2 separate regions of the Homo sapiens genome follow, and region 1 is linked to region 2. The links come from fine-mapping of genetic effects on gene expression. A gene starts in region 2. The other region holds a variant in brackets. All regions are shown on one strand. Distances are between the middles of the regions.

Region 1 (5,368 bases), 40 kb before region 2:
AGCCTCCCGAGTAGCTGGAACTACAGGTGTGTGCCACCATACCCGCTAATTTTTTTTGTATTTTAGTATGGATGGGGTTTCACCATGTTGGCCAAGATGGTCTCCATCTCATGACCTTGTGATCCTTCTGCCTTGGCCTCCCAAAGTGCTGGGATTACAGGAGTGAGCCACCATGCCTGGCCAAATTTCTTAAAATTTGAATTCAGCAAATCTTCTGTTTCATCAATTCTGTTGACATCCCAATGTCTTCCAGCTGCGTATTCACAATGATGGGGGCAGATGGTAGAAATGGGATGGTAATGTAAAAGTGGGATCTGGAGCTCAGAAGATACCCCCATCCCATACCTACTACAACATCTGTGCCTTCTTGTTCACTATTTTTGGGGTACCATAGAGAGACTACGGGTCCCCTGATAATATCGCAATTTTCTCTAACCCCAACTCCATGGGACTGATTATAGGAAAAGGGAGATTGGAGGTCAGCCCTACTAAGACCTCCTTGGACTGAGATTCTTTAGTCTTTGTGGCTCTCCTAGAAATATTTCCTTAAGGGGTCTGTTCCCGCATGGGGCTGAGGAAATACAGAGGTGAGAATAACAAATTAGGACCAGGCACGGAGGCTCACGCCTGTAATCCCAGCACTTTGGGAGGCTGAGGCAGGCAGATCACCTGAGGTCAGGAGTTTGAGACCAGCCTGACCAACATGATGAAACCCCCTCTCTACTAAAAATACAAAAATTAGCCAGGTGTGGTGGCGGGTGCCTGTAATCCCAGCTACTTGGGAGGCTGAGCCAGGAGAATCCCTTGAACCCAGGAGGCAGAGATTGCAGTGAGCCGAGATCGCGCCACTGCACTCCAGCCTGGGCGACAGAGCAAGATTCCGTCTCAAGAAAAATAAATAAATAAATAAATAAATAACCAATTGGAAGAAGCTCAAATGCAGTCATGTCTGAGGCAAGGAGGACATGAACAGTTGCCCTGCTTGGTGTCTTCAAGCCAGGACTAAGAGGAGAGGAGAAAGAGCCACACTACTGGCTGCCCTTTCATTCTAGAGACCAGGGCTGGCAGAAGTTTCCTAGATTTCCTAAATTTTCACACCTTCCCCCAGACTAGCGACTTGGTAACCTTGGGTCTCTTTCCCCACAATGATCAACTGTAAAATCCTTCAAAGGAAAAGGTACCATGTAGTTTTCTTTAGGGAGATGTGAACAGGGAGGCAAATAAGTGTGGGGAGAGCTGAGGAGATGGTACCCCCCTCAGCTTCCAATCTAGAGGAATGAGGAGTCCCAGGGATTGAGTAAGTAGACAGTAAGCAGGCTGAGGCTCTTGCAGCTTGTAGGAAGGAAGAAAGAGGGTGCAGATTATCAATTTGGATATTATATGGCTCCCAGTTCAGGAAAAAAATCCCCAGAGTCGTTGGGCACAGTGGCTCATACTTGTAATCTCAGCAGTTTGGGAGGTCGAGGCAGGAAGATCACTTAAGCTCAGGAGTACGAGACCAGCCTGGGCAACATAGTGAGACCTTGTCTCTATGAAAAGTAAAAAAAAATTAGCCGGGCATGGTGGTGCACACCTATAGTCCCAGCTACTCGGGAGGCTGAGGTGGACTGCTTGAGCCCAGGAGGTCAAGGCTACAGTGAGCTGTGATTGCACCACTGTACTCCGGCCTGGGTGACAGGGAGAGACCCTGCCTCAAAAAAAAAGAAAGAAAGAAAAGGGAAGGGGAGGGGAGGGGAGAGGAATCGCCAGAGTGGAAAGAAAAGGAACCCAGCTGAATGGTCTTGTCCTTGTAAGATAGGACAAAACAGTGTTCAGGGAGCTAGCTTGAATTGACAGAAGGATCTTCCTAGGGGTTTAACCCTGATGGCTTCCCCACCCATATTGGGACACCTCCCATCCTAGAGAACAGTCCCATTTTGTTGTTGATCACATGGAGGTTCATTTTCAAAAAGGTATTCAACAATGATACCTGTTCTTTTACATCTGGGAGCTGAGGAAAGTAAAAAAAAAAAAAAAAAAAAAAAAAAAAGATGGACAAGGCTGGGTGCGGTGGCTCACACCTGTAATCTCAGCACTTTGGGAGGCAGGAAAATCACTTGAACCAGGGAGGCAGAGGTTGCAGTGAACCGAGATCACGCCACTGCACTCCAGCCTGGGCGACAGAGCAAGACTCCATCTCCACACACACACACACACACACACAAATATATATATATTAGGACTAGATGTCTGGCTTGCCTCACTTGCCTTGTCAAGGCAGAACCAACCCCTCCAAATTCTGACATGAATGCCCTTACTCTTCCAAATCCTGACCAATGTCCTCGCATTGTTCTGTAGAGAATAGTGGTCTGGATGTTTGCCAGTGCTGACCGTTCCTTGTCATCAACATTTGTGGGCCTGTCT[C/CT]TTTTTTTTTTTTTTTTTAAATAGAGATAGGGTTTCACCATGTTGCCCAGGCTGGTCTCCAACTCCTGGGCTCAAGCAGTCCTCCACTGGGATTACAGGTGTGAGCCACCACACCCAGCCCTATCTCAATTTAAAGGCTCCTGAGGACCAGGCTGCGAATCAAGGTCTTCCTTGTCATACAAGGGCTTCTTAAAGTAGGAGCAGATTTCACCTCTAAGACTAGAGGACTCTCCAAGAGTGGGGTTAGGTCTCTCCCATCAAACTGGAGGCTCCTTGTTACAAACCAAGTTGTGACTCCCAAAAGGCATCCACCTAGAACCTCAGAATGTGACTTTATTTGGAAAAAGGGTATTTGCAGATGTAATTAAAGTGAGGATCTCAAGAGAAGATCATTCTAGATTAAGAAGAGCCCTAAATCCAATAATGAGTATTTCTTTTCTTTTTTTTTTAATTTCTTCTTTTTGGAGATGGAGTCTTGCTCTGTTGCCCAGGCTGGAGTAGTGCAGTGGCACGATCTCAGCTCACTGCAACCTCCGCCTCCCAGGGTCAAGCAATTCTCCTGCTTCAGTCTCCTGAGTAGGTGGAATTACAGGCGCCGGCCACCACATCCAGCTAATTTTTTTTTTTTTTTGGCAGTGTCTCACCCTGTCACCAGGCTGGAGTGCACTGGCGCAATCTCGGCTCACTGCAACCTCCGCCTCCTGGGTTCAAGAGATTCTCCTGCCTCAGCCTCCTGAGTAGCTGGAATGCTGGAATGATAGGCACGCACTACCACACCCAGCTAATTTTTGTATTTTTAGTAGAGATGGGGTTTCACAATGTTGGCCAGGATGGTCTTGATCTCCTGACCTGGTGATCTGCCCTCCTGGGCCTCCCAAAGTGCTGGGATTACAGGTGTGAGCCACTGTGCCCAGCCTAGTTTTTGTATTTTTAGTAGAGATGGGGTTTCACCTTGTTGGCCAGGCTGGTCTTGAACTCCTAAACTCAAGTGATCTGCCTACCTCAGCCTCCCAAACTGCTGGGATTACAGGTGTGAGCCACTGTGCCCAGCCCCAATAATGAATATTTCTAATAAGACAGAAAAGAAGAAAACACAAAGACACAGAAGGAGAAAGCCATGTGAAGGCAGAGGCAGAGACAGAGACTGGAGCGATGGGTCTACAAGCCAAAAACACCAAGAATTGCTGACAGCCACCAGAAGCTGGGAAAGTGGCATGAGGCAGATTCTCTCCTGGAGCCTCCCGAACAAACCTGCACTACTGACACCTTGGTTTGGGACTTCTGGCCTCCAGAACTGTGAGAAAATTTCTGTTGCTATAAACCAAGTGTGTGGTAATTTGTTATAGCAGCCCAAATAAATGCATCTACTGTACAAGAGTGAGGTCTCCCTCATAACTGCAGCTCCCTAAGGAGGGATGGATATTATATCTTGGGTAAAGGCTGTCTTTTGTGGGTCAGACTCAGGATGCCAGGGAAAGGCTGAGAGTCTCAGGAGAGGCTTCACCAGGCTCAGACTGAGGTTGAGCTTTAGGCTGTGAATTTGCAGTTCCTGGCCGAGCTCCCTTACTTGCCCAGGGTAGCCTGGATGTTGCTGCCCTGTGTCTGAAGCTCTTGGTCCAGCTGGTCCCTCTCCATAGTGAGCTGAAGGGCAAGGTCCCTGATGCTCTGCAGAACCTTTTCAAAGCTTTGGTTGCTAGGAAAGGAGTCAAGAACAATAAATGGAATATAGATCCTGGCATTGACAGTGGAAAGATGACTTGGCTTTGACCCCAGCCCAAGGAGGCACTGCTCTGCCAGGCCAAGCTGGAGCCACAATCCTGGAGACTCTTTGGATAACTTCCATCCTCCCCACTAACACACTGAAGAGCATTTCATACCTCAAAGCACCTCCCTGTCAGTCACTTCATCTGATCCTCCTATCCCTGAAGCCCACAGGGCAGGGGTTATGATGCTCAGATTACAGATGAGAAAACTAAGCTACAAACAGCACACTGGCTCCTTGGCTAGCAGATGAGAGAGCTGGGACTAGAAAGAAGATGGGTCTGCAGGCTTAAGGCCAGAACCTTTCCCCATGGACTCCTCTCAGCTGCAGAGTAGGACCCCAGCCATGGCTGGACTGCCATAGCTGCAAAATTTTTTTTTTGTTTTTTTTGAGACAGAGTTTCACTCTTGTTGCCCAGGCTGGAGTGCAATGGCACGATCTCGGCTCACTGCAACCTCCGCTTCCTGGTTCAAGCAAGACTCCTGCCTCAGCCTCCTGAGTAGCTGGGATTACAGGCATGTGCCACCACGCCCAGCTAATTTTGTATTTTCAGTAGAGACGGGGTTTCTCCATATTGGTCAGGCTGGTCTCGAACTCCTGACCTTAGGTGATCCACCCGCCTTGGCCTCCCAAAGTGCTGGGATTATAGGCATGAGCCACTGTGCCCAGCCTAGCTGCATAATTTTAACTTTGGACTTGGGGAAAGCAGATGTGTGACCAAAGGACCGAGAGCTTTACAAGTTAGAAAGCAAAGGAGGTGTATGTAAAATTATATCCTTCCATTTTATGACTGTCTTTGCTTCTTGAAGGAAGCTCAGCTGCCCACTCAGGCCTGGGGCATTTCTGCATGCTGCTGACCTGTTTGGATTGCATTCTGAACTGTTAGTAGTGTACCTAGAGGCTCACTGGATAAGAATTCATGAGAATTTAATCCCTCCTTCACCACCTATTGGCTGTGTAACCTTAGGTAATTTTCTTAACCTCTCTGTATAACCACATCAGACCAATCTCGTCCAACTTAATTAATTAATTAATTTTTATTTTTATTTATTTATTTATTTTTTGAGATGGAGTCTTGCTGTCGCCCAGGCTGGAGTGCAGTGGCATGATCTCCACTCGCTGCAACCTCTGCCTCCCAGGTTCATGCCATTCTCCTGCCTCAGCCTCCCAAGTAGCTGGGACTACAGGTGCCCGCCACCACGC
Region 2 (5,297 bases):
AGTTGCACAGGGGCAGAACAGGTCCAGCTAAAAAGAGCAAGTCTGAGTTAGAAGGCCTTAGAATTGGTGGTGAGGTGGAGGGAGCAGCAAATAATGACAAAGATGATGAGGGAAAGTACTCCTCCTGGAGGTGGGGACTCAAAGGACAGCAGCCAGCCCCAGCCCACAGGATGAGGTACCAGCACTGCCCCCTGCCCGGGCCCCTGGGGCTCCCTGACCCAGGCCTCCAGTGTGCCTGCCCCCCTTCCTTTGTCTGTGCCCGGCCTCCCGTTGGCCTGGCGCTCTGCCATCCTCCTCTCCTGGCTCCCAGCCGCCACCACTGCTGCCTCCTCCCCTCCCCCTACTCCTCCCTGCCTTAACCCTTCTGAGCCACATGCTGCCCCAGACAGGCCCTGGCCCCCTCAGCCTCTTGCTCAGGGTGATGCCCCTTAGTCAGAGGCTCTCCCTGCTCCCAGCCATTCCAGCCCCAGAAGCTGGTCCTCACCCCAGGAGCAATATGGGTGTTGGGCATGTGTATGTGTGTATCTTGTGGTGCTTCTGCGTGTGCATGTGTGTGGGTCTGTGTGCGCTCTGGCTTCCCTCAGTCACATGTGTGGGGCATGTGCTGTCTCTGCCGGGCTGGGGGAGGAGGAGGAGCCCGGAGACAGCAGAACACAAAGGAGAGACTCAGACAGGCAGGCAGGCAGGCGGCAGGCGGCCTGCCAGGGCGCCTCAGCCCTCACCCCAGGGCTGCTCAAGGTGGGGGAAATCTTTGGGCCTGGACTGCTACATGCTGCCATGCCTTCCTTGTGTTCAAGCATGTGCTCCCCCATCCAAGCAAGCTGCAAGCCAGGTCCCCTCTCTAACCTCAACTGCTACTATTCCCCACCTCCAGTCTACTCTGAAGCCCTCCCCATGTGGTTCTCCTTGAAGTCTAACCTCCATCCACCCTCTTTGGCATCAATCTATAAGACTTCTTCATGATCTGGAAAAAGACTCCCCACTCTTCCCTATCTTTTGCCCTCTCTCCCTCAGTCAGACCACCAGACACAAAAGGAACATGCCTTCTGGGGCATTGACTGAAGTTGTCTTCCCACCCACCCACAAACCCCTGGGCTTGGGCCCTCTTCCTGTTCCCATGCTGCTCCCAGAGACTAAGAAGAAGAGATTTTCTCTCTCCTCCCACTGGACCCAGGCACCCTGCCCCAACTTCAGGGCCAACCTCCCATCCACCTCCAGCCTGACAACCCCTCCATACATACATACCCGCTTACCCACTATTTGTAGGAACTAAGAATCACAATTTAAGACTCATCCCTCTAGCTTGTTCAGATCCTTAGTTTAACTGCTCTGCTCATGTGTGTTGATGGAGGGTCAGGGCCCTGGGGTGGGCTAAGAACATGATGGATCTGAAAGGGGTACCCAGCATGGGTCAATTATAAAGGAGAAAATCCACAACATAAACATGTACACCAAGCTGGTAGAAAGAGGGACGACGGGGCCAGACAGGATTCCAGCTTGGCAAGCTCTTCCCTCTCCTCTCCCCAACCCTCTGCAGCAGGAGCCAGTGGTTCCCATACTCGGATATTCTAGGATTGTTAGGTTCTCTTATTCCTCCTTCTGGGACCCATGCCCCTTAGACATCAGCCTCAGCAGGCACCTGAAGTGTGTGCCCAGCCCAGCTTGGCCTGGGTCACATGATTTTCAAGGAAGCTTCCGCACTGGCAGCTTCCCTTGGGGATTTGTGGGGGAGTGGTGGGTGTCCAGCTGTGAAGTATGTAGCCAAAGCGGGCTACATTCAGGGACACTGACTTCCAGGAGAAAGCTGACTCCAGTCTGGGGCAGGAGGGCCAATTCCAGGACCCAGAGTCCCGGGGATGGAGACAGACAGTGTGCCGTGAGGCCCTCTGTAGACTACCTCTCCAGTCGCATGGCTTCTCTCTTTCCTCCTGGCAGTGAGGTAGACGCCCTCCGCCCCCCCCACCTGCCCCCCAGGAAAAAAACTCAGACCTAGGCTATCCCTGGCAAGAGCTGATATGTTTTGGGGAGGCAGGGATCTGAGCCTGGGTCCTCTCTCAAGTTCTCAGTTTTGGGTCAAGTATTGCTCCCCCAGCTTACCTCTCCACAAATCACTCTATTTCCTAGCCTGCCCTCCCACTAGGGCGGAGATGCCAGACCCAAGGGTCCAATTATCTGGCACCTCTTAGGAGTACCTCCGGTGCCTCAGGAGGGCCAACCTTCCCTGGCAACAGGCAGGAAAAGTTGAAGGTGGGGGGCAAGATGGGCCGCAATCAATACCTCCCTGCAAACAGGGTCCTCAGAAACAGCATGGGGGGGATGTCACAGGATAGGTAAGAGGCAATGGGCAGCAGGGAAGGGGGGGCAGCCCAAACCAGCCAATCACAACTCTATGGTGACCTGAGGGGGGGGGTCAAAAGTCCAGAGTCACTTCTGATTGGCTAACAACCTGGAATTCTGAGAATTTCAGCCCCCCCCAAACCTCTCCCCAATTAGCCTACCCCCAAAAAAACATACACATAAGCCACCCCCAGCGTCTCCTCCCCGTGTTTCTGGGCTGCTGCGCATTTACACAGTTGGGGAAAACGCTACCCGCCAGCCTGAGGCCCCGCGTAGCCCTTCCAGCCCCCGGCTTCCCCCATGCCATCGACGCCCCCCACACAAGTTCTCGCCAAACACGGGGTGAGGGGTCCGCAGGGACGGCTGGGCAGGAAGGGGCCGAGTGGCCGCACGCCCCACTCACCAGGACAGGCACAGCCCACTGACATCTTCACATCGCCCGCCTCTGGGGGCCCAGCCGAGTCACGGTGCCCGCCCCTCGCGGGGACAGGCCGGGCATGAGCCGCCGCCGCCGCCCGCGGCCCCCGCTGCGCTCGCCGCCGGCCCGGCCCGGCCTCGGCCCGGTGCGGGCGGCCCCTGGCTGCGGCGAGGGGCCTGTCAGGCGCGGAGCAGACAGGAAGGAAGCCAGGCAGGAAGGCGAGCGGCCTCTGCGTGTGTGCGCGCGGGTGTGAGTCCGCGGAGTGTGTGTCCGTGTGTGCGTGTGTGCGCGTGTGCGTGTGCGTGTCTGTGCGCTCCCGCCGCCGTCGCCGAGCGCCCCCCTCTCCGCCCTCGCGCTCGCGCTCCCTCGCGCCGGCGCCGGCTCCCCAGCCCAAGCCGGGCAGGGCCGGGCTTTATTAATATGCTAATTGTCCTGCTAGTGGGAGGGGAGAGCCGTGTCAAAGTGACCCGGGAGAGCGCGCAGCAAGCGACGACGTGCGTGCGCCGCGCGGCGGGCGGGCGGCGAGGGGCTGGGAGCGCTCGGGGAACGGCATGCATGTGACGCAGCTTTTAAAAAAGGAGACGGAGGCAGAGACCCCAGAGAGGGAGGGCGAAGGGGAGGGCTTGGAGGCGCAGCCGCGCGCTCGGTGTCCGTCCTCCGGGTGCCGCCGGATGGGGAGTCTGGCTGAGCCGGAGCGGGAGCCGCGGCTGGGGGAGGCGGAGCCGGGGTGGGCAGTGTGGTGTATCTCTCTCCACCCCGGGCCGCGCTCCGGGAGGGAAAAGGGACTGCAGACCCCCTGTCCGTGCTCCCTGCTGAGACGCCAGCCTTCTTCTGGAGGCCCCTTGTTTCGCGTCCCTACCCTAGGCTGGATGGGTAAAGAAGCATTCTCTTAATTCTTGTAGCAACCCCTCAACTCACCCCTTCCCTAAATTAACCACTCCTCCTTTGCCTGCGAAACCAGTTGGGACTAGAACTAAAAGGGTTAATTAAGTGGGGTCCCCGCCCTCCTCCGCCTAAGGGCTTGGGATCTGTGTTTTGCTGGGGGGAGGGGGCTGCGGAATGACCACCAGATTGGATTACGGAGGGGCGATAGGAGGCCATCCTTCCTTCTTGCAGACTGACGCATCAGTCAAGACACTCTCTTCCCTTCCCCCCTTTCTCCAGCCTTGGTGCCTTCACCTCCGTACCAACCGCCCAACCCCACCGCCTCCGACCCCCCTGCCTGGAAGCTGCTGTCCTTTGAGGGCTTCGGAGATGAGAACAGGAAACAGGCCCCTCCAGTGCCCCCTAACCCAGAGAGGCAGAGGCTGTGGGCCGTGGGGGGTTGGATGGGAGATGATGTGGATGGTCAATGTAAGGAACACTCCTTCCCCTGGGAGGAGCCTCCCAACCTTCAGTCACACTTCAAGGACTCCCCAACCCAGCCCTAGGAGGGGAGGGGCTCCATCTCCATCCCTTCCCAAAAGCTCAGCTTTAGCTGCCTCATAAACAGGAAATACCTATTAGCCAGGAGGAGGGAAGGGAGGGGAGCCGCCTGGAGTAGAGAGTTGACCCCCTCCCTCCTGGGGTCCCCAGCTGCTAGCTTTTCTTTCTTAAGTTTCAGTATGGGCTCCAGGGATAGACGATGGAGACTTGGACTAGTGTCTCCTCCCTAGGGCGTCTGGCCCTGACTGGGTAGGGGGTTCTCCTCTTTGTTACTTAGAGGGGTGTTGGTTGAGAAGGCTGTTTGGTTCCCTCACTCTGGCTCAGAGTCTGCACAGCTGGCTTGACTGGCTGGGGGAGGGTTACAAATGCGGAGGCTTAAAGTGTTTATGAGACCTCTTCTCTCCACCTTAGGTTTTTGCTGAGGGAGCATGAAATGATGGAACGGTGCAGAGTCCAGGGATTGAAAAGAAGGCCTGCCTAGGAATGGAGACCCTCCCCACCATGTGCTTAGGATGGGGGATAGGGGAGCTTGTACACTGTGGAGTCTCCCACCCCCAGGTTTCCCCATCTCCACCCCCACCAGGAGCAGAGAGGACCTGACTGAAGCCATCCACACTCACACAAGTATTTCCTTGGCAGCATCCCCTGCCTGAGTGCACCCCCTCCCTGCATTCTCCCAGACAAAGGTCAGCACTAGAGGGAGTAGAGAGAACATAAGGCAACAGAACACTGGCCCGAAATTGTGGATACCTAGGTTTGAACGCAAGATTCGCTCCTCAATACCTGAGTGATTTGAGACAACTGACCACCCCACCTGGGACACTAGCTTTATCCTCTGTAACCTATGGCTTGGTGAGTATCAAACTAGACAATGTACACCCAGTCACGTAGCCCAGTGTCAGCCAGGCAGTCCTGTAAATACGTGTTCTTTCTGCCCTTTTTTTTTTTTTTTTTTTAAGATTATCCAATTCCAAGAGAGGAGGGGGCTGGATTGGCAGGACAATTTGAGATGGTTTGGAGGAGGGGGAATACCTACCTTGACCTCCTTCTCTCTTTTCTGTCCATGAATTTGCCTTCCTCCAATCCTGTGACCACTTACGCCTAAGGCCACTCATTC

Evidence for each region. PIP is the estimated chance that this variant, and not a neighbour inherited with it, causes the effect.
Region 1: its variant is fine-mapped to the expression of LDB1 in whole blood (INTERVAL, PIP above 0.99).

The regions. Positions count from the first base shown.
Region 1 is chr10:102,077,076-102,082,443 of GRCh38, forward strand. No RefSeq gene overlaps it. Among named protein-coding and RNA genes, the nearest start is that of HPS6, 14 kb to the left of the region's middle. The variant C/CT (reference allele first, on the strand shown) is at 2,404.
Region 2 is chr10:102,117,346-102,122,642 of GRCh38, forward strand. LDB1 (LIM domain binding 1) reads right to left here and starts at 3,023. Exons shown (of 11, transcript NM_001113407.3): 1 at 2,741-3,023. The coding sequence starts at 2,765. It also overlaps a transcript of PPRC1 not described here. RefSeq lists enhancers at 1-501, 502-1,203, 2,909-3,660, 3,661-4,412, 4,413-5,162 and silencers at 90-329, 2,663-2,732, 2,823-2,902, 2,963-3,262, 3,283-3,412.